Regions from separate parts of the Homo sapiens genome. Here region 1 is linked to region 2. Evidence: fine-mapped expression QTL. A gene starts in region 2. The other region holds a variant in brackets. All regions are shown on one strand. Distances are between the middles of the regions.

What was found. PIP is the estimated chance that this variant, and not a neighbour inherited with it, causes the effect.
Region 1: its variant is fine-mapped to the expression of FAM185A in neutrophils (BLUEPRINT, PIP 0.95).

The regions. Positions count from the first base shown.
Region 1 is chr7:102,768,621-102,780,641 of GRCh38, forward strand. FAM185A (family with sequence similarity 185 member A) reads left to right here. Exons shown (of 8, transcript NM_001145268.2): 5 at 3,789-3,830; 6 at 8,633-8,728. Among named protein-coding and RNA genes, the nearest start is that of FAM185A, 26 kb to the left of the region's middle. The variant A/G (reference allele first, on the strand shown) is at 6,500.
Region 2 is chr7:102,742,954-102,754,974 of GRCh38, forward strand. It overlaps FAM185A (family with sequence similarity 185 member A), which reads left to right and starts at 6,046. Exons shown (of 8, transcript NM_001145268.2): 1 at 6,046-6,705; 2 at 8,739-8,848. The coding sequence starts at 6,255. It also overlaps the pseudogene RASA4DP. RefSeq lists silencers at 5,736-5,825, 5,866-6,035 and an enhancer at 5,769-6,063.

The DNA of each region.
Region 1 (12,021 bases), 26 kb after region 2:
TTCTATGTGCTTGAACCATAATCACATTTCTTTTGGTGAAGAAAAATAAACCAATGTTTATCTTTAAATTGATTACATTTTTTTTTCCTCTGACCATGCTAGAATGAAAGGTTACAAGCTAAGAAAAACTATCTATTTTCTCAAATACTGGGATTTGTGGAAAACTTATATAACTTGAGAGTAGGGTAAGCACACATAGTTATTACAGACCATCTGGTGTCTGCTTTATTGGAAAGAAGCTTTTACTAAGATTTACTCCTCTCAAATAATTAATTTATTATTTTCAGTGTTTGGAGATGAAGTAGGTGGAATCAAAATATAGAAAATTTTGCTAATAATGCCCATTTTGTTGCTTGGTATACTTTTAAATATACTACTTTATTCCACTATGCATTTGAAGGAAGAAATCCATTTTGTGTTTTCTAATGACTTTAGAATATTTCTGTTTAAGGTAGAGATTTTCTAAATATTTTGATATGAGTTGAAAATAAGTTTTTGTTTACTGTTTTATTTAGAGTTGACAAAAATATTTTGAAGTGTTACTTACAACTAGACAGTATTTGAAATGATTCCTTAATTCCATGGGTTTTTGTTGTTGTTGCTCCATTATGCTTTTAGTATACAGTAGAACTCAAACATTCAAGAAGAATGTTATCTGAGACTCTATAGGTCCCACTATAATTAACTAATCCTCATTTTGTATAGATCTAAAACTTCTATTTTTCTGGTTCAAAGAATCATTGTTTTCTCAAGACCTCCTCACTTTCATGACAAGCACTAATGATTGGCTTTTTGAGAAAGACCATATTTTTATTTTAAAAAAAATTGTAAATTTTTACTGCATTATTAAAGACTAGTGTAAAACTATAAAGCTCCATTGCCTTGATGAGTGGGTGACTGGATTCACTAGCTAAATGACTGTAAAACTTTATCATAGTTCTTTATTAATAAAGTTACGAATATCAGGGACCTGTCTATCTTTTATTGTTCAGGAGGTAGAGCAGTGTCTTAGTCTGTTTTCTGTTGCTATAACAGAATACCTGAGACTGAGTGATTTATAAAGCTTATATATTACAGTTCTGGAGGCTGAGAAGTCTGAGGTCTAGGAGCCGCATCTGGTGAGAGCCTTCTTGCGGATAGGGGCTCTGCAGAGTCATGAAGTGGCACAGGCCTCACATGGAGAGAGGCTGCATGAGAGACACCCACACTGGCTCTTATAACAGACTCACTCTTGTAATAGCTAACCCACTCCCTCTATGACCCATTAATCCATTGATTCATGAATGGGTTAATCCATTCATGAGGGTAGAGCCCTCATGACCCAATTACCTCCCAAAGGTCCCACCTCATAGTATTGCTGCACTGGGGACTAAGTTTCCAACACATGAACTTTTGTGGGAACGTTCAAACCACAACAAGCAGTAAAGAGAATGCTGAGTATGGAAACACCCACTGTCTCACACTAGGTGAATCTCCTTAAAGCATGGTTTTCTTGTATTTTTATTCATCTTGAAATTCTTCACTAACTTTTTTGGTGTAGGATAGTCAGTAGACTTAGCACTCTGTGGTTCTACCACAGGTTGCTCTTTACCTACTTTTCCAAACTTTTTATTTGTTCACAAAATAATTGTGTTTACTATGTACTATGCACTGTGCAAAGTTCCCAGGTATGAAGCTAAATAAGAAAGATGTGATTCCTGTCCTCCTAGACTTGCCTCATTGGGATCTAATTAAATGAAAGAGCTTCTGCACTGCAAAAGAAATTATGAACAGAGTAAATAGACAACCTACAGAATGGGAGAAAATATTTGCAAACTCTGTATCTGACAAAGGTTTAATATCCTTTGTTCCTTTGAATCTTCAAGGAAGTTAAACAAATCAATAAGCAAAAAACTAATAACCCTATTAAAAATGAGCAAAAGACAGGACATTTTGCTCATTTCTCAAGAGAAGACGTACAAGAAACCAACAAACATGAAAAACTGTTCCAAATCACTAGTCATCAGAGAAATGCAAATCAAAACCACAATGAGATATCATCTCACACCAGTCAGAATGGCTATTATTAAAAATAAGTAAAAAAACAACAGACGCTGGCGAGGCTGTGGAGAAAGGGGAACACTCATACACTGTTGGTGGGAATGTAAATTAGTTCAGCCACTGTGGAAAGCAGTTTGAAGATTTCTCAAAGAACTTAAAACAGAACCACCATTCAACCCAGCAATTCCATTACTGGATATATACACAAAAGAAAATAAATCATTCTTCCAAAAAGACACATGCACTCAACATATTCACTGCAGCTCTATTCACAATAGCAAAGACATGGAATCAACCTATGTGCCCATCAGTGGTGGACTGGATAAAGAGAATGTGGTACATATACACCATGGAATACTATGCGGCCATAAAGAAGAATGAAATTATATCCTTTGCAGCAGCATGGATGCAGTTGGAAGCCACTATCCTAAGCGAATTAACACAGGAATAGAAAACCAAATACCACATGGTCTTACCTATAAGTGGGGGGTAAACATTGGATAATTATGGACATAAAGATGGCAACAGTAGAAACTGGAGTCTACTAGATGGGGGATGGAGGGACGGGGCAAGGGTTGAAAAACTATTGGGTACTATGCCTAGTACCTGGGTGATGGGATCATTTGTACCCCAGACTTCAACATCACACAATATACCCAGGTAACAAACCTGCACATGTATCCCCTGAATCTAAAATATGAAAAAAAATTAGTAATCTTATAAGCTTCAGTACACAAACCAAGTTTTTATTCATACACAAATATACTCCTTGTTCATATACTCACAAGAAATATGATGGTATATTAGACCTTCAGATGGATTTTTGCAATTAGGCGCATCTGGCTATTGAGTAAATGAATCCAGTGCCTTTTTTTGGTTTTTCCCAGATACTGATACAAGTCAGTATTCATAAGGTATATGAAATGAGATAAAATGAGTTTACTGAAGATTAATTCTGAGGCCAAAGTTATTCCTTTACTTTTTAGTGTAGTTTTGGAATTATTTTAGAAGAGATAACATTATTGCTTATATTTTCAGTAGAATAAATATGAGTTCCTGATTCTAGGAATACTTACACATACAAACACACATATGAAGAATAATCCTACTACTTTTGGTGTTAGGGGAAAGGGGCTGGGAAGAATGGTTGCAATATTCCATCCTTATCATGGAAAACATATTTTCACTAAGACGGAAATCTTTGAAGCTTCTTTGTTCTGTTTTGTTAGTCATACCTCCATGTATTCATTATTCCTATCTCAAACCACTTTAATTCTTGGCCCAGAAACTACTTTTAATTTAATAGACATGGCAAGTGGCCTGAAAAATAAAAGTAATTCTTTTTTTCCATACCATATTTTAGTGTTACTTGGTTGAAAACTTCGCTTTGTGTGGTCTGATAAATACATTGATATTTAGGTTGAAAATGTACAGTGACTACATTTCAGTAATTTTTTTCACTTACAGGTTTTAGAAGTATTGTTTTTCCTCTGTGCCAGCAGTTATGGTGATTTGTAGTTATGCTATAAAAGCTTAAGGTTTGGTAGTAGAGAAAGAAGGTTTGCAGAGATACCTAAGCCAGTTATTTCAGAACTACAGCTCAATCTTTGACTGGACTTGTGATATTGGGAAAAATTGCCAACAAAAATAACATTGTAGATATTCATCCATGTTTTAGCATTGCTATGTATCACAGTTCCTTTCTAGATTGTCTCTAGTACATAAAAGTATCTTTTTCTTTTTGGCAGGTAATATAACATTACAAAGCAAGATGGGTAACATCACAGTAGGTATGTGCTAAGCTACTAGTTCGTGTATTTTGTCCACTTTTAAAAATGGGTATATTTGTGATGACTTTATTAGAATAAATGAATTCTACAGTTTAACTGATGAACTTGACAGGATCACAAGTCAAATATAGGCAGAACCAATGTACTAATTATGTCCACTCGAAGAAAATCGCCTGAGCTGGTATTAAGAAATGTCTTATATTTCTTGCTAAACTTCTCTGAAGAAAAAAAAAAGAAAAGAAAGAAAAAAAGATCTTACAAATTTCTTGAATTCTTCAAATATCTAAATTAAGTCCTTGAAAGAAAGATATAAATAATGTCACTGTTTATTGGGCTCCAAATGTGTTAACATTTGAAGACAACCTTGTGAATACCAATAACTAGTTAGTCAACATGTATTTATTGAGTACCTGCCATGTATTAAGAATTCTTTTAGGTACTAGGGAACATATTGGTCAACAGGACATAGTTTCTGTGCTCAGAGACCTCACCTTCTCTGAGCCCTGGGAAGAAAGACAACAAGCACATAAATAACAAAAGGTAATTTTAGTTTGTGGTAAGTACAATGAAGAAATAAGAAAGGGTAACTGAATAGAGATTGGGGAAAAAGAAAGCTACTTCAGTTAGGCAATTGGGGGTGGTCTGGAGAGGGTACATTTAAACCAAAGCCAGAAAAATGAGAAAGAGTTATATAAAATTCTGGATACAGGCTCCCTAGATAGAGGAACAGCAAGTGCAGGCCTTGAAAATGGAAGTTTACTATTTTCAAGGGAAAGAAGGCTGGCTTATGAGGAAAGTGGTAGGATATGAGGTAAGTAAGGCTAGATCTTAGGACCTTGTAGACAGGGTAAGAGTTCAGACTTTATTCCAACTACAACAGGATGTTAGGGAAGTGATATATAATTTATATTTTAAAAGAACAACCTAGCTGTTATTTCATAATGTACCAGAAGGGTTCAGAAGTGAAAGCAGGCTATTAGAAGGCTTAATTTGTTCATTCTACTGTTGATGGACACCTGGGCCATTTCTAATTTTTTGGCAACTGTAAATAAAGCTGCTATGAATATATTAATGTAAGTCATTTTATGGATGTATATATATTTTTCCTCTTGGGTAAATACGTAGGTATGGCATTGCTGAGTTGACTAGGTAGGTTCTATGTTTAACTTTATGATAAACTACCAGACCTTTTCCCAAAGTTCCACTTTATACTCTCATCAACAATGTATGAGAATTTGAGTTGCTCCACATCCTCATCAACATTTATTATTGTCAGTTTTAAAATTTTTTTATATCATCATTTGTTGAAAAAACTTCCTTTCTCTGATGGATTACTTTAGCATCCTTGTCTAAAATCAAATCACTATATAAGTGTGGCTCAATGTCTGATCTCTTGTTCCTAATTCATTGATTTATTTGGTGAGCCTTATGCCGGTGCCACAATATCATGATTACTGTATCTTTGGTAAGTCTGTAAATCAGGTAGTTGAAGTCTTCCAAATTTGTTCCTTTTAAGGATTACTTTGGATATAATAGGTCCTTTGATTTTCCAGTCAGTTTCTACCAAAAAATACAGTTTTGATTATGTTTGGGATTGCACTGAATCACATTGTATCTTCCAATTAATGAACATGGTAGGTAGCTCTCTCCATTTATTTAGGTCTTCTTTAATTTTTCTCAGCATTGCTTTGTAAGTTTCAGTGTAGAGATCTGGCACATTTTTTTGTTAAATTCATTTGTGTTTTTAACACTGTTACAAATGAGACAGTTTTTAAGACTTTGCTTCTAATTGTCTACTGCTGATATATGTAAATACAAATGATTTTTATAAATGGACCTTGTATCTTGTGACCTTGCTAAATTTATTCTAATAGTGGTTTTCTCAAATCTAGAATCCTTTTCTAGCTGAGCAGACATTTTCAACTGCAAATAGAGTTTTACCTCTTTCCCTCCTATCTTTATTACTTTTCTTTTTCTTGCCTTATCAGACTAGCTATGAACTTCAGTATAATGTTGAATGTAGTGATGAGAGTGTGATTCCTTGCACTTGATCCCTATCCTTGTCCCCAATATTAGGGGGAATGCATTAAGTGTGATGTTAGCTATAGATTTTTAACAGATGCCTTTTATCAGATTGGGAGAGTAATCTTTTATTCCTTGTTTGCTTAAAAGTTTCTCTTTTTTTACTTTCTTTGTTCGTGAATGAGTGTTGAATTTTGTCAAACACATTTCCTGAATTTATTGAAATGATCATTTTTCTTTTATTAATATGACCAACTATACTGACTGATTTTTCTTTTAACATTATTTACTTGTTTATTATTTTAAAAAATAGAGACAAGGTCTCACTTTGTTACCCATACTGGTCTCAAATGCCTGGCTTCAAGCAGTTCTCCTGCCTCAGCCTCCTAAAGTGCTGGAATTACAGGCATAAGCCACCACACCTGGCCCTTTCTTTAAAATATCTATCATTTACTCAGTGCCCATGTGCCAAGCACTGAGCTAATCACATTACAATGTAGATTTATTTTGGTATCTTTTGTGGTGTGTTTTGTTTTTGTTTTTTTTTTTTGCTTTTGCTGACTTTATTGAGACATAATTGACAAAACCGTATATATTTAAGGTATACATGCAATATAATGATTTGATATACATATATACTGTGAAAT[A/G]ATTTCCACAGTCCGTTTAGTTAACATATCTGTCACTTCACCTCATTACCATTTTATGTGTATGATGAAAATGTTTAAGATTTACTCTCTTAGCAAATATCAAGTTTACAGTACAGTATTGTTAATTACAGTCACTGTGCTATACATTAGATCTACAGGACTTTCTCCCAGATCCATAGAATTTCTCCATTATGTAAACTCCAAAAGAATGAAATTCTGTGGATGAAGCCTTAATTTTACTCTTGATAATTAATTTTAGTTCTGATAATTTGTGTTAAACAAAAAAAATAGGAGGGCTTGTTTTGCTGCATAGTTTTAAAATATCACCTTTGCCTTCTTTCTTGAAAACATCTTGCGTTTTCATTTTTTTATTTTTTAACATCCTCCAAGGGATGAGCCATCATTAGAGATCAATACAGATAACATGAGGATATAATTACTTTGTGGCCTAGGATATAATTATTTAGCTGTCATTTATTTCTCATTTGGAGGGAAAAATAAATGAAAGTATTATTTATGAGCCACATAAAAATTGTGTGTGTTTTTTTTCCCTCCTTGAGAAAGCGAGAAATCACACTAATGTTTCAGCTATTTTACTTTGTTCAAACTGGAATAATACACACCTTGTGTATTACACTTTTCTTTTTTTTAGCATAATGTAATTTTTACTTGGCTTCTTTTAGGATGCGGTAAGAGGTTTAAAAAGGAGTTTCTGTTGGTTCGTAAGCAGTGAAATGTTCATTTTGTCCAGCTATTCTGTGTCATTTATCTCTAGTGGTTTCATTTCCCAACGTCAGTGTTAACTTTTGACACTTGAAAACTAAATAAATTGAGTCTGATAAAGGGCATTTTCCAGTATAGATTGGAAATAAATTATTATAAATGATCTTGGAGCCGCATTTTAAACAGTTTATTCCAAATTTACTCTCTTTGTTTGAAGTCAGTTAACATTTTTTTAAAAGAAAAATGTTGGCTCCTATACACACACACACACACAAATGTTTTCTCTCTCTGTTTTGTAAACAGTATAATTTTTGGCATAGTTTTCACCACACTCCCTACTTTGTTTCCACTTTGAAGTAATAAAACCTCCTGATAAAATATGCTTTTTAAGAGGCCTCTCTAAAAAGAATATGCTTTGGCTTTCTCCAGGCAGTCAGATAGAATATTAAATTAAAGATTCAATTGCCATGGGAGAAAGAGAAGAAGGAAAAACCACTTAGCACTAACTCTTCAAGTTCATTTTCTTACTTCCTTATTTTGACTGTTTTCCCTTGAACTTGAGATACTGGTTGATTCAAAAGTGGGGTCATTGACCACATAGGGAAATTTGAATGACAAATCAGGGTTACCTTAATTATTATTTTCTTATCCTCACTTAAAGATACCTGTTCAATTCCAGAAACTTGAAAAGAACTATTAGATATAAACAAGCTATTCTTCAAATTATTCCACCCTGCCCTTCTGCCCCTTAAAGAAATGCAGCAAGCCAGGAACAGTGGTTTGTGCCTGTAATCCCAGGAGTATGGCTTGGTCCCAGGAGTCAGAGACCAGCCTGGACAGCATAGCAAGACCCTGTCTCTAAAAAAAAAAAAAAAAAGAAAAAAAGAAATGCGACAACTTTATGTAGAGTAATCTTTTACTATTAGGAGCACTTCTTAGTATCAGCAAATTTGCTACAAGGAGAAATTATGAGAGGTTTTGATTTTTGTCAGCCTTGCTACTGCTTGTATGTGACTATACATGAGGTAGAATTCTTTGGTAATTATTGAAAGTTTACTAAATGTATCAACATGATAAAAAACTAAATATATCAATGATGCTTAGTGGTCAAAGGAACCATTACTTGCAGACTCTCCTTCCGACTCATTAAGTTTTAGAGTAAATGTTTAGAGATAAGTTATTCAGGTTAATATAGATAAAGATTTTTAAATTAGTTGTTTAATAGATTTCTAGGTTTCTGATACTGTTTACGTTCAAGTGCAAACAATGGCATTGTTATGAGGAAAATACTAAACCTTGCAAGATTCTTAGCCCCTTATCCTAATGCTAAAGCAGAGCCTTTTATTTTAAGTTTGTAATTCCATTTATCAAGTAAGAATTATTTTACTTATGGTTTTTTCTTCTTCCTAGATTCGTCTTCTGGATGTCTAAAAGCCTCAACTAATCAGGGTGCCATAGATGTTTATGTCAGCCAACTGGGGAAAGTGGAATTGAAATCCCATAAAGGTTAGTGAACTGGAATGTTTTATTTTGACATATGATGTAAGGAAGGTTTATGTAACACTCAGGAAACAGATGGTCAAATTATCTATACTGACATAGTGATTTCAAGAAAATATCTTCTGATAGAACCTAATTTAAAGGCACTGGTCTGCTAGCTTTCTAGACCAGTGATCTTTACAACTTTTGGGATAGATGGCCATGCAGACTATCTTTCCCTTTGTAGTACAAACAAAAATGTAATATTTTGACTGTTATTATGGAATTTTTAAATGTTACTCTGTGGATTTTTCAGTTTATTCTATTCTGAAATAGAATAATCTTTGAAGGAAAAACGCTGCCATACACTCTTTTGGAAGCTTCTCTGCCAGCCTGTAAAAGGAACTTCTCAGGCAATCAGTGTAGAGTAACAGTTTTCAAAGTGTGATCCTTAAATAAAGGTATCACACAGAAAGGTCCTCTAAAGTGATTACTTAGTCTCTTGAAGTATCAAGACTTATGATATGTCTCTATCATTTAACTTCTGACACAACTTATTCTGAGTCCAACTCTTTCATTTAAAATGGTATACTTTTCATCTGAAAGCTAAATATGAATTTGTCTGTTCTTCTGCACACATGGATGTACACATATGTGTTGACAAGTGGCTTGGGTGAAGTAGGTTGGCCATAGGGGCTGAAGTGGCTTGGCTGCAGAAAGTTAAGAACTGTAGCTCTGTATAAAAAAATTTTTTTAAATAGTCTAGCAGCTCTTGCATGTTGGCCAGATGTTTAACAAGGAAAATATTTCCTCACAGAGACTGATTGTTCCTGCTATTAGTAGTTGCTTTACCATATTGATGTAATAGTTTTTTTTAATCCATCTCTAGAATTTGTCAGTGTCAAAACTGCAAAACACAGAGGTCTGAAACCTCAGTTATTGCTGATACACCGGTGTGACTTCTCAATATCATATTTTCTCCCTTTAAAATAGGATAAACTTATGTCCTCACTAAATCTAAGAGCTTCAGGTAATACTCTTCAGGGAAAATTATAAATGGCATGTAAGTCATATAACTGTACTCCATTATTACAAAGATCCAAAGAGAAGAGGGATATATTGTTAATATAACTAGTAACAGAGTAAGAACAAAGTTTTGAATAAGCAGCTGTTACATACAAATAATTTAATGTTTTGCACAGTAGGCAAAATAAAACAAACAGAAAACTGTAAAACTTTTGAAGATTGTTAGTCTTTATTCATTTAAAATATTTCTTAGTATTATTTGGAATATTGCTGGAACAATATTGGAATAGTATTTGAAACTATTGAAATAGTATTTGATGTTGCAAAATTTGATTAGGATTACAGTTTTATGTTTTCTTCTACTGGGACCATGTTACTGGCAAAAGCTTAAAGACAACTGAAAACAAAGATTTCTGTCTTACTTCAGATCTCCGAATTCTCAATACACTTGGTAAGAGTAACTTTTTAAGAGTAATGGAAAGTTATTCAGTAACTCTTTCTTAATCGTTCGCAAAGACATCTGGAATCCATTCCAACTCTGCCACTGTCTTGCTGTAGGGTTCAGAGCCAGCCACTGGAGTCTCTTAGGTCTTCAACATTTTCTGATGTGGAAAAATATATAATGCTTGTTTTCTTTCACCTTATGAAAATTAATATGGTGACCTTCTTAATTCATTCCAGGCTATGCTTGGGCCTGGGAGTCACACCTGAATCTGAGTACTGACTTTTCTACTTAACATTTTGTCCTTGGGAAAATCACTAATTTTAACATAATATGCCTTCAATAAATGATGCTGTTAGTTCACATTTGAATTTTTAAGAGGATAGTACTGATGTCAACCATGAAGAAGTTTATGATGTGAAAAGAGGTTAAAGAACACAACAAGAGCCCTCCTTTCTAAAAAAGTTAGTGTTAACGATGGGACATTAGGAAGGTTTTCAAGTCATGAAAATTCTTCATTCACAAACAGTAATGGAGTTTTGGTAGGTGGTTTTTGGCTTTTAAAGATATGGAGGGAGATGGGGTAGAAATCTTTGCATTGCTTAACATTTCTAAAGATCTGAAAAATTTAAGATCATGTTATGCATTTAAGGACAGAGACAAGTGTTCATAAAGTTAGCACACTTGAAACTTGATACATTTAGACATATCAAGCCCTACAAAAAAGTTTTTAAATCCATGATTTTCTACTTTTGAAAGTATGTTTGGTAGAAAAACGTGTCTTCTATTTATCCTGAAATCTTCCAGGGTTGTTTTTGTTTTGTTTTTTCCTAAAGCCCTCATATGTTGTTATGGGAATCTCCTGTCTGTAGTTTACATTTGAACCCTGGAAAGCAATTAAGTTTTTTGTTTTTGTTTTTGAGACAGGGTATCACTCTGTCACCCAGGCTGGAGTGCAGCAGCAAGATCATGGCTCAGTGCAGCCTCATCAGGATCGCCTAAGCTTGGGAGGTCAGCCTTCCAGGTAGATGAGACTACAGTTGTGCACCACCACACCCAGCTTTTTTTTTTTTTTTTTTTTTTTTTTTTTGAGCTGGGGGAGGTAGAAACAGGGTTTCACCATGTTGTCCAGGCTGGTCTCGAACTCTTGAGCTCAAGCAATCCACCTACCTTGGCTTCCCAAAGTACTGAGATTACAGCCACAAGCCACTGTGCCTGGCTGCAATTTATTTCTTAATAAAATAAACTAGTTGTAGTAATATGCATTGTTCCCTAATTTTTTTTTAGAATAGAACAGTTTGTCATGCTTATCTCAAACTTCTAGCTCCAGTTAGGAAGACCAAGAAATTACTTAAGGAAGCTTAAGCTGATGTTAGCCAGATTGGAAGGAAAACCACGACCCATAAGTAAATGCATTCTAAACCCCATCCTGACCATCTTTGTCCACAGAGGTGGGGTTAATGCATTATGGCAGGGGCCTTTTACCTACTTTATTTAATGAAAAACAGGAAGAAAAACTTCTGAAATAGGAGTGTGTTGGTGAATTTACACTGCAACCCACATAATTCTAAAAATGATTCCATACCTAACAGAGTACTTTTCCTGATTTACTCCTTTAGAAGGTTGAATTACAGCCAGGTTGTATGGAAATACAGGCTGAGTGTCTTACCTTAGGTATCCAAAAGCCTGTAATCTACTCAAAAGAAACATTAGTGAGTTGGAATTCAAATAATCCTTTTCTATTGTTATTTTTTGTTACACACAAGGCACATCTGAAAGCACAAGAGCTCAGTGTTCTAGTTGTGTTATAATAATGAGGTCACAAGTCCTGTACTACGATGAGGTAGGAGTG
Region 2 (12,021 bases):
ATCGAAAACCTGGCCCATGACCATGGAAATTGGTCGAGTTCTGACTGAAGCAAATCCAAAATTGTTCTACAGGGAACAAGAAAAATTTTATTGTAATCTAGAATGTAAAGGATTTTCAGAAAAGAGAACTCCCGCTGAAGATGAGCTATAAATAAAAATTTATACGCCATGACAAGAAATAAACCACCATGAGACAGAGTTTGTTTATGTAGCAAAAGAGAAACAGCAACCTCATAACAGAACAGACTAGAATAATTTTGCATCAGTATGTTTAAAATAATTAAAAAGGCAAGAGAAGGTAAAGAAACCACAGTAAAATAAACGGGGCAGTTTAAAATAAGAGAAAACAGATTTTTTAAAGAACCAAATAAATATTCTAGCAATGATAATATAGTCATTGGGATGAAAAATTCAATGCAGATATTAAACAATGGATTAGCAAAGATTGGATTAGCAAAGATTCATTAGCAAAGATGTTCTAATGAATTAGAACATAGATTTGAGGAAATCATCCAGAATGAAATACAAAAAGATGAAGAGGCATAAATCATATAAACACAGTTAAGAGATATGGATGACAGAATGAGAAATTAAAATACATGTCTAAATGAGAGCTCCAAAAGTAAAGAATAGAAAGAGCAAGGACATGCTGAAGGTTTATAAATTGGAGACTTTAGACAAAGAAAGCATATTGACTTCTGAGCAGGACAAATAAAACTAAACCATATTAACAATTTTCTAACAATCTTCCATAAAATAAAAGAGGCAACATTTGCCCTTCTAATTTTACCCTAATATCAAAACCAGAAAAAGACATGAAAGAATACTTTGGACCAATATCCTTCATGAAAATAAAATGTAAAAATCCTCACAAATTTAGCAAGTTGAATCTAGCAATTTATAGAAAAGATAATGATGGCAGTGGCTGGTGCCATCACGCTGGCTGCAGCAGGGAGGAAAGGCTGGGACTGCAGACCCAGGCCTCCCACTCCATGGGGCAGTCAGGAGCCCCACCCTCCTGGACGGTGCTACAGCCGCCCAAACTGCAGCTGTAGATCCGAGCCTCCCTGCGCTCTTGAAGTGGGGCTGGGAACAGGCAGGATCTGCCCTCTTGGGTGCAGCTGCAGCCGCCTGACCAGCAGCTGCAGACCTGGGCCTCCCACAACATGGAGCAGGCAGGAGCTGGGGAATCCTGCCCCTGCTGAGTTGGCCTGCGGGAGCTCCCTGGGTGCAGCTGCCACTGCCCTCTCACCCACGGGACCCAGGCATCTCTGCAGCCTGTACCCTCTGGTGCCCCGGAAGGCCCCCCTATCCCTGCAGGCTTGGGGTGTCTGCTCCCGCTGCCTGACCTCTCTCCTCTCCTGACCTCTCTCCTCTCCTGGAGCTGGCTCAGATCTTGGAGTGGGGTTGGGGTTGAGCCCTGGGGCCATGAATGGCAGCGGGAGGCAGACAGATTCTTGGGTGGAAGGGGGCAGGTCCCCAGTAAGGCTCTACCTTCAGTCCAGGAAGGGCCTGAAGGCTGGGGGCCAACTGCCAGTACTGCATACCAGTTTGGGGACTCATGGGGCCTCTTCCAGCAGCCCATGGCTGCCCATGGACCAATCAGCATGAACTTCCTCCCCTCTGAGGTCCATAAAAGCCCTGGACTCAGCCAGAGCAGGGCAGAGGATGGCCAAAGGACGAAGAGGGTAGACAGACTACACAAGGACCAGCTGCAGAAAGGAGCTACCGTCTCTGCCGAGAGCTTCAGAGACAACCTGCCAGCAGACAGGAGGCACCCTCTCCAGGGCCTCCTCTCCACTGAGAGCTGCAGACATCAGGACAACCAGTAGTAGAGAGGAGCTACCCTCTCCAGGGCCACCTCTCTAATGAGAACTGAATGCTGGACAGATGATCTTCCTACAGAGAGGAGCTACCCACTGTGGGTCTCCTCTGAGCTCTTGTAACACTTAATAAAGCTCATCTTCGTCTCGTTCACCCTTCACTTGTCTGCGTACCTCATTCTTCCTGGATGCAGGACAAGAATTCGGGCAAAGGTGCTGTGGCCACAGAGGTTTCTGGCCAGGAAATTGGCAACGCAAAACTCCCTGACAATAACATGATGAAATGTAGCTTATTGAGGGAATGAAACACTTGAAAAACAATCACTGTAATACACCATATCAATAAATTAGAAGAAAAACAATATGATCATCTTCATAGACACAGAAAAAGCATTTGACAAAATGCAACATTCACTTATGATAAAAAGTCTAAGCAAATTAGAAAGTAAACTTCCTTAACTTGCTAAAGGGCATCTTTAAAAATCTACCGCTAACTTCCTAATTGTTGTTGAAATTTCCCTCATAAATAGGAAATAAATCAAGGATTTTTGCTTTTGCCACTCCAACTCAATATTGTAGTGGTGGTCTTAGCCAGTGCAATAACACCAGGAAAGAAAAGCCATACAGAGAAAGGAAGAAATAAAACTGTCTATTTGCAGTTTCACATAGAGATTTCAAATAGAATTAGTACCTATATATAGTCATTAAATACTTCTCAATGTTGATAGTTATTAGTTAAGATTGTTGAGTTTATTAATATTTCATAAGAATAATAGAAGTCATAAGATATATCTCTTTTTAAATAGTTTATAATTCAGAAAGTTAAGTTCTTATGGCTTTTCTCTTAAGCTAAATTGCTGAAGTCTTTGTTTTGGTTACCTTTTCTTCTGAAAACTCTCTTATGACCTCTGCTGTCCATTTATTGAACATAAATCATTAAATAAAATATTCGTTGACATTTATGTCTAGATGGTAAGAAATCTTCTGCCCATCTGATTATTTGAGTCAGTTTTAGGAAACAATATATGCTAAGAAATGCTTTAAAATTGTTTTCTTATAAATGTAATATATTTTCACTATTGATAACACACAAAAAATTGCAGTAACCACTCATCATATCACTGCTTAAAGATAACAACTGTTATCAAGTGGTACATATCCCTCTGGAATTGTTTCTGTAAAGTATAATTTTATGTTAAATTTATTATTATTATTACACAATTGAGATCATACTATACGTGCAATTTTGTATATATTCTTTTCACTTTATATATGGACTATTTCCCATATCAAGATATAATGTTTAAATTGTTGCATAATATATCAGCTATATACTAATTTATGTAATACTGTCTTATTTGCGAGCATTTAACATTTTTTTTTTGAGACAGAGTTTCAGTCTTGCCATCCAGGCTGGAGTGCAGTGGTGTGATCTCGGCTCACTGCAACCTCTACCTCCTGTGTTTAAATGATTCTCCTGTCTCAGCCTCCTGAGTAGCTGGGATTACAGGCATCCATCACCACGCCAAGCTAATTTTTAGCAGAGATGGAGTTTCACCGTGTTGGCCAGGCTGGTCCTGAACTCCTGACCTCAGGTGATCCACCCGTCTCAGCCTCCCAAAGTGCTGAAATTACAGGCATGAGCCACTGCACCTGGCCAGGGAGCATTTAAATTGATGCAATTATTTTCTCTTACAAGTAACCCTATAAAACGTAATTCCTTGAGCATACCTAATTTTATGCTTACATCCCCAAGAGCACAATTTCTGAGTCATAGAAAAAGCTTTTCATTCTTATTGCTGAATTGAACTCTAAAAATTTTGTGCTAACTTAACACTCCTACCAGAAGTATATGTTCATGACCACGGAAATAGCTTTTTAAAACTAAGATGTGAAAATATCTTAGAAACAAACTCTAAATAAGGAGAAAAAAGTTGTATATAATTTTCTACTTATGAGGTGAATAATTTCATTTTTTCTTCAAAGGTGTCAGGAAAATGGACGTTTTGGTAGAGTGATAAAAGGGCCAGACCTTCTAATTGCTTAATCTTAATGTTTCTGAATCTGAATCCTCATCTATAGTGTGAGGAGAATAATTTCCCTCCTAATTAGTGAGGATACATTGAGATGACGCATGTGAACATGGTTTGACAATTATAATGTCATATGGATGGAAGATACAACTTTTATTAATCACTGTTGATATGTGGACAGATTTGATACTCATTATACTGTTTTTAAGTGTCTATAACTTTAAATATTTTATGCCAATCTTAATATTAATAATTTTCTCCATTTTCAACATTGTATGATCAGCAAAGTAAATTTTCAGTCAATTCTATTTGGTTTTTATTTGAAAAAGTAAAATAATGATCATGCAACATAGAAAATTATAGTTCAGTTGCCAATTCCATTAACTTAGTTTGTCTCAGAAAAGGAAAAATTACCATAGACACAGAATTAACTATTAGAATTAATATTTAATCTAAAAATGTCTAGTGTTTCTACAGAAAATTTGAGTACCTTCTCAACTTCCTTAAACCAGTGCCTTTTTCAAATTTCTTTTCAAAGTTACACCTCTCAATTTTCATAAAAAATAGTTTGAAGATTATTCTGAATAATTATAACCAATGAAACACAAAGACAAGAAAAGAACTATTGCAGTGGGCCCTTGCTGAACCTGAGCTAGCACCTATAATGAGTGAGTCTTCACCAAAAGAATAAGGAGGGAGGAAGGACTAGAAGGACAGAAAAGAGGCAATGATAACTTAAGAGAACACTGAATTTTTAAAAATTTTAAAAAGGTAGTGGCTAGCAGAGAACCTGAGACTTGTACCCATGAGAACTTTAGCCCAGTCTATCTATCACGATAGCCCCAAGAATTCTGGTCATTGTACTTGGGTAAGGGCTTCTATTTTTTAAGGCACTTGCATTTTATGAAATGTTAGTGTTTGCAGGTGTCTTGGCTAAATAATTTAGGGAATACATTTTAGGAGGAAGTAGGGGCACAGAGGGGGAGAGAGAAACCAGGCAGGAAAGAAGAAAAAAAGAAAAAAGAAGAAAATAAATCTTTCTGTTCCCATTATTTTACTGCCTATAGAATTATAAAAGGTAAACACACACACACACACACACACACACACACACACACCCCTTATAGGGTCATTTAGAACCATCTTTCTTCATTTTAAAACTAAAGAAACAGGTCTAGGTGACACAGATGAAGCAGTGGCAGAGCCAGGAAAATAACCTGACCCTTGTCCCTGCTCTTTCCACCGCACCATGGTGACTCTCTTTTTTGTGTCTTTTTTTTTTTTTTCACTCTAAAACTGAGGATCATTTGTAGTCAAAGAGATCAATGCTATTCTCAAAACAAGTTCTGATCTCTCATAATTTTCTTGGTAACTCAGAATCAATGTTAAGTACGTTGAAATAAAAATACAGTTCTTTACACGGTAATTTTGTAGACTGTGCACCACGGTCCCATCCATTTTCTTACTTGATCCTTACAAAAACCCTTTGAGGCAAGGCAAGGAAGGTATTATTATCTACATTTTTAAAGTGAGCAAATTAAAACCCAAAGTAAGGTCACTTAGGGTCAGGACGGAGCAAGTACTCTATTCCTATATTTGGAATATAGGAGGGAATACACTTCCAAAGAGGCAATTCCCTCAAAAAGCACCAATCTTGCTCTTTACTTTCTTACCAAGGCATTCTCCATGCCCTGGAGATGCCCTCACTAAGTTAGTGAAGCTTGGATGTTGACATCCACAGAGGTTACTCCTAGTTTGCACCTAGTTGTCATCTTAAAAAGCGCAGTTTCTTACCCCTTCCCTTGGTCCTGATCCTTATTTAGGCTCCTATTTTTCTCTTTGGGATTTGGCGTCCTGGGTCTCACTCCAAAGCTCCACCCTCTCCAACCAAGAAGTCGCGTGCTTGGTATCCAAGGTGACCACGCAGCTTTACCCGCGTTGCCCCTTCCGTGCTTCCCATTGGCCAGTGGACTCCCATGTACCGCCCCTCCAATAGCCAATGGTCTTGAGACAAAGGGCGCCCGCCTTTCCAGCGATTCTAACACCTACCCTCTTACCCGTGCTCCCCTGCGCATTGCCTCCTGGGAAATGTGGTTTCTAAGAGGCAGAGCTCTGCGACTTAGAACTACCTATCCCGTCGGCCTTAGCGAAAGGGGGTGGACTTAGGCAAGGGGTCCAGGTCAGAGTTTAGAGCTTTCAAATCCCAACTTGCCCCTGGGGATTGCGCGGCTGATGTTTAGAACGCCTAGTCAAGCCAACCGGCTCGCTCTTGTTTCAGCAAACCCTGACTTACGTCTCCTATTTGACTTGAGGCGGCACAGTGGCCAAGTCGATTGGCCGTGGCAAGTGACCCTCCCTGTGGCTGAAGTGTTCTGAGGACTGGCGAGAGAGGCGCGCCATGCTTGCCCCCTGCTCAGGTTGGGAGCTTGGCTGCTTCCGTCTCTGTCTCCGTCAGGTCCGACTGTGGGCTGGCGCTGGGCGCTGGGCTTGCTGGGCTTGCCAAGCCAGGCCGTACAGCTCAGGTGGGAGCGAGCGCTGGCCCGGATCGGAGACTGAGGTCCCTCCGCCTGGCCCGGGGCGCCGAACTCTGAAGGAGTGGACACTGCAGGTGAGCCCGTTTGGTCGGCTGCGGGCGCGGCTCCCGTGCCACCTGGCCGTGAGGCCCCTGGACCCCCTCACCTACCCGGATGGCGACCGCGTGCTGGTCGCGGTGTGCGGCGTGGAGGGCGGCGTGCGGGGCCTGGACGGCCTGCAGGTGAAGTACGACGAGGATCTGGAGGAGATGGCCATTGTGTCTGATACTATCCACCCCCAGGCGTCCGTGGAGGTGAACGCGCCCCTGAAGTTTGGCAAGTGAAGTGAAGTGAAAACGGGTTTGGGTCCCAGGGAACGCACAGTGAACTTAATAAATGTGGTCGACGTGCACTTTTAATTGGTCCTGGCTCTCTAAACCTAATTTACAGTTGGCCCCTTCGGAAATGCACCTTTTCCTCTGTTCTGTTCTTGAGTGTCCGAGTAGTATTTAAAAATTAGGTTCCCAATTATAGAAATTTTATACATCGAATGGAAACATGATTTGGTATAATCCAGGTCAAATTCTATTTCTGGAGCCGCTTGTGTTCTCCTTTATCCCGTTGTCATTAGCAAACTGGCTTATTTTTCAAGGTTGAAGTTTCTTGACAATTCATTCAATGGTATGGCAGTCCATCTACATTTCATCTTGCTCACAGCCTGGGGGTCTGTCCCAAAACAGCCCTGTCAATAGGATGTTCCGGGTATCACCTGGTTTGAGTATTTGGTTTTAGACGGGCGCCCAGCTTCTTACTGTTATATTTCCATTCTTTTTGGCCTAAGTTTTCCATGAGTAGCAAGCTTTGAAGAAAAACACATGGTAAGCCTGCCTAGGAAGCTTCAATAATAATGCCTGCAAGATACCTTTCTTAGCTTTTCCTAAATGGCAAGCCACTGTGTACACACACTTTTCTAGGAAGGGCTCCCCAGACTGTCATTCTTCCTGGGACTGATGGAAGATATTGATGATGATGATGATAGTAATAATAATAGCATTTAGCATTTTTAAGATCATCTTTTATAATGCTTAGAGTTGCCCAAATAGTAGATGCCGTAGTCCTCCCTTATCCACCGTTTGGCTGTCTCAGTTTGTTACCTGCCTCAGCTGTTGTAGGAAAATATTAAGATATTTTGACAGATCACAGTAATATAACTTTTATTACAGTATATTGTTATAATTGCTGTATTTGTTATTATTGTTCATCTCTTACTATGCCTAGTTTATAAATTAAACTTGATCATTGATATGTATACAGGAAAAAACATAGAATATATAGGATTTGGTACTATTTGTGGTTTCAGGAATCAAGTGGGGGGGCGGGTCTTGCCTACTTTAAGAGAAATCATCAATATTTATGTTAATTCCAAATTAAATATCAGCGTTTTTAATTTTTAAAATTTGTATACAGAGATGCCTGCAGTTACATCTTAAATAGACAGCCAAGGATGGCATTTGTAATTCCTTATTTTCCAAACTTGCTTCATATACCACTGCCATTTGTCCACAATCTTGTGGGGTTTTTTGTTTGTTTGTTTTGGTTTTTTTTGAGACTGCATCTCACTCACTCTGCCACGCAGGCTGGAGTACAGGTGCACAATCATGGCCCACTGCAGTCTTGACTTCACGGTTTTAAGCAATCTTCTCGCCTCCACCTCCTGAGTAGCTGGGACTACAGGTGCATGCTACCATGCCCGGCTAATGTTTTTGTTTTTTTGTAGAAATGGAGTTTTGCTACATTGTCCAGGCTGGTCTTGAACTCCTGGGCTTCAAGCAATCCTCCTTCCTCGGCCTCCCAAAGTGCTGGTATTACAGGCATGAGCCACTGCTCATGGCCTAATCTTGTAGTTTTAATAGTATATATTAGCTTTTTCAAAGTTGTTCCCATTTTTAAAAAATTACTTCAAATACCTGTGATATAGTTGCATGGTAATATTTTCATTTTTTAAGTATGAAAGGTTAGACATAGGATTTGAAAACCTAAGTCATGATCATATATACTGGGGAAGAGGCTTCTACAGTCTTTCACAGGAGTACTTAACAGAATCGTAGTCTCCTTTACTTCCCATCTATGTTAGTTCTCTTTAGGTGATTTAGGCCAGTAGAAATAACTGCTCTGTTTCTAAAAACGGGCAGAAAGGCTATTGTTTTTGGTCCCGTTGCTGTGGTAGAAGACCCCTTACCTTTACAGTATGCACTTTCCAGGATTCAGCAATATTACGGACATAACTGAGGAGTTGGGTTTCTAGGTTAAAATGCTTTGGAGCTTATAAACTGCAGTACTAACTTGCTTTTTTCTTTTTTTACTTCTAGGTTTAGATATCAAGTCATCAGGGTCTGGCTGTGTAAAAGTTCAAAGTATTGAGGGTGATAATTGCAAAATTGAAACAGAGCATGGGACTAGTATCTTGCAGTCTGTTAAGGTATAGCATTTTTCTAATTTTATTTCACTATTATTTTTTTAAAAGCCTTAAGCTATGAATCGTACTATCAAACTCAAGAGATTCTTCTGTTTTTCAGAACATTGTCATTCATTCATCTCTCAGAAAGTCCTTGGCAAACATTTTGCCTTGAAATCAGTTCTAGTAAAGTACAGAGGTTATAGCAGTTTTGAGGTTTTGCCTCAAATTTCTTTTGGATTTAATTTCAAAGTGTACAGTGAAACTAATAGTATTTTCCTAGTATTCTGAAATCTTACTAAAGAAATTTTAGTTTCCACAAATGATTTTCTTCCATTTTATTAAAGAGTAAGGAAGAATCTTTATGCACTATAAATGTGCTTAAATATTAGATGACTTTAATCACATTTTTAATGTACCAGGTAGCTCATTACTTAAGGATTAAGTAGTTATTTGTGCAAAGTAACATATGATTCATCTTGTTTTGTAATTAAAATTTTTTTTTTTTTTTTTGAGATGGAGTCTTACTCTGTCACCAGGCTGGAGTGCAGTGGTGCAATCTCAGCTCACTGCAACCTCTGACTCCCTGGTACAAGCAATTCTCCTGCCTCAGCCTCCCAAGTAGCTGGGATTACAGGCATGCACCACCACACTCAGTTAATTTTTGTATATTTAGTAGAGACAGGGTTTCACCATGTTGGCCAGGCTGGTCTCGATCTCCTGACCTCGTGATCCGCCTGCCTTGGCCTCCCAAAGTGCTAGGATTACAGGCATGAGCCACTGCGTCCGGCTGTAATTAATTTTTTTTTTTTTTTTTAGTGTTTTCTTTGTAGAGACAGTGTCTCACTGTATTGCCCAGGCTGGTCTTGCACTCATGGGCTCAAGTGATCCTCCTGCCTTGGGCTCATGAAGTGCTGGGATTACAGGTGTGAGTCACCATGACTGACCTATATTTAATTTTTTAAAGATTAGACTGGTGTTAGCTGTAAATAGTTTGAAATACCTCTCTGATAGGTGCTAGCTTATTGTTACTCTTAGTGCTTCTTGCATTTGCATAGTCAAAACTTGATACTTTTGTGAACTTTGAAAGCATGCAATTTTGTTGAAGTCAGTCATCTTTGCTTCATAATTGCAAAATATTTTCATTTTTAGATTTCTAAACACTAGTTAGAATAATTTGATGCATTTTTAATTTTTACATATTTTTTCTTTCATCCACCTTTATTTGCGTATCTGCCATCAGCATGTGTCCACATATGAATCAGTTCAAATAAATTTTTGGCACAAATATCATAAAAGATTAACATTACCATCACAAGTCCTTTTAGCAAAATAAGTTGGTTCAGATTCTTGTTGTAAAAGATTGTGTAATAAGGTCTTCATGTTGAATGACTAGGTGAGGATATCATAATTCTTTTTTGTCCTTAGAAATATTTTGTTCAGTCATTGATACTTAAGTTTCAGAAAACTAATCTAGACTTGTCCTCTGAAGACTCAAGAGTTTGAGATTTCCAATTTCACAATCAAAATTAGAATCTAGTATACTGCTGTCTCTGCATTTATGTTTTGATTAATCTGATAGTTCTGAAAGATCTTTCTCTGTTGATTTTCTTCTTTTATGCCATTGTAGGCATAAAATTAAAAGTGGTTTCTTAGCCTTGGCAATACAAACCTTTTCAGTCAGGTGATTTGTTGTGGGGGCCTGTCTTGTGCAGTATAGGATATTTAGCACCATCTTTGGCCTCTACCTTTTAGATGCCAGTAGCATGCTCCTCAGTTGTGACAAGGGAAAATGTCTCCAGACATTGCCAAATATCTTCTAGAGACAAAATCATCTCCAGTTGAGAACGACTGCTTTATGCAAGTCCATCATTCTTCTGTTTTCTTATTTAGTTTTTTTAAAAAACATAGTTGGGAATAATTTATGAATAATGATGAAATAACTCCTAGGATGATGAATTAGCAAAAAAAAAAATTAAAAATAAGAACACTATTATCCCATAATGTATTTCAGGTTTATAAAAGTCCAATGGACCAATTAATGGTAATTACAGGATAGAAAGAGTTTTGTTCTATTTTTTTAAAAGTAAGTACATTTTCTATTTATTCCTTGAAAGACCTCCCAAGAAATAACAGAAATCATGAAATATCAGTTCTTACAAATAAAATAGCTCAAAACAAGAAATTCATGAAAAATTACGCCTGTGGATACTAATGGTATACCAAGGGTTAAGAGAATTATCCTTGAGATCATAGGATTTAACTAACTTCAATTCACAAATGAGAACACTTTGGTAAAATATCTGGTTTAAGTTTTAAGTATCGTACAATAATATCATTACCTTGAATTAGTGGTCACCTGTTGATATGTGTCTCTTTCATTAACTTAAGGACTTGAAATATAGTTGACCTACATAATAAAAAAAATTTTTTTTTTTTTTGAGGCGGAGTCTCACTCTGTTGCCCAGGCTGGAGTGCAATGACACGATCTTGGCTCACTGCAACCTCCGCCTCCTGGGTTCAAGTGATTCTCCCACCTCAGCCTCCCGAGTAGCTGGGATTACAGGCACCCGCTATCATGCTCGGCTAATTTTGGCCAGGCATGTTGGCCAGGCTTGTCTTGAACTCCTTTCCTCACATGATCTGCCCCACCTTGGCCTCCCAAAGTTCTGGGATTACAGGCATGAGCCACCGTGCTCAGCCCTACATAATAAAATTTTTATAGCAATAATAATAACTACTGTTAATAAGTCCTTATTATGTACCAGGAATCTTAGCTAAACCTTCATTTAATCCTTGAATTTTCTCCATTTTATCAAGGAAGAAACTAGAAGGCACCAAGAGATTGAGGAACTCACTTGCGTTCACATAGCTAAAAAAAATTGAGCTGGGATTTGACCTTGGGTCTTTCTGATTTCCAAGCTCATGCTTTTTCCACCTTTATTTATTGTCCTGACAAAACATATGGTAAGACCACATTTGTACAGCATCCTTAGGGAATAAGATAAGTGCATTTTTTAGGCAACAGACCCTTAACTAATTGAATGTCACACATTTGCATTTTTTAAATGCAGTATAATTTATTTTCTAAATAATTTCTGATTTATTTAAACATTTAACTATTTGGTTTTATGTTTTTAAAAATTCTATAATCAACTTCACATTTTTTGGGGAATTAGATGAGCTTTAAATTATAA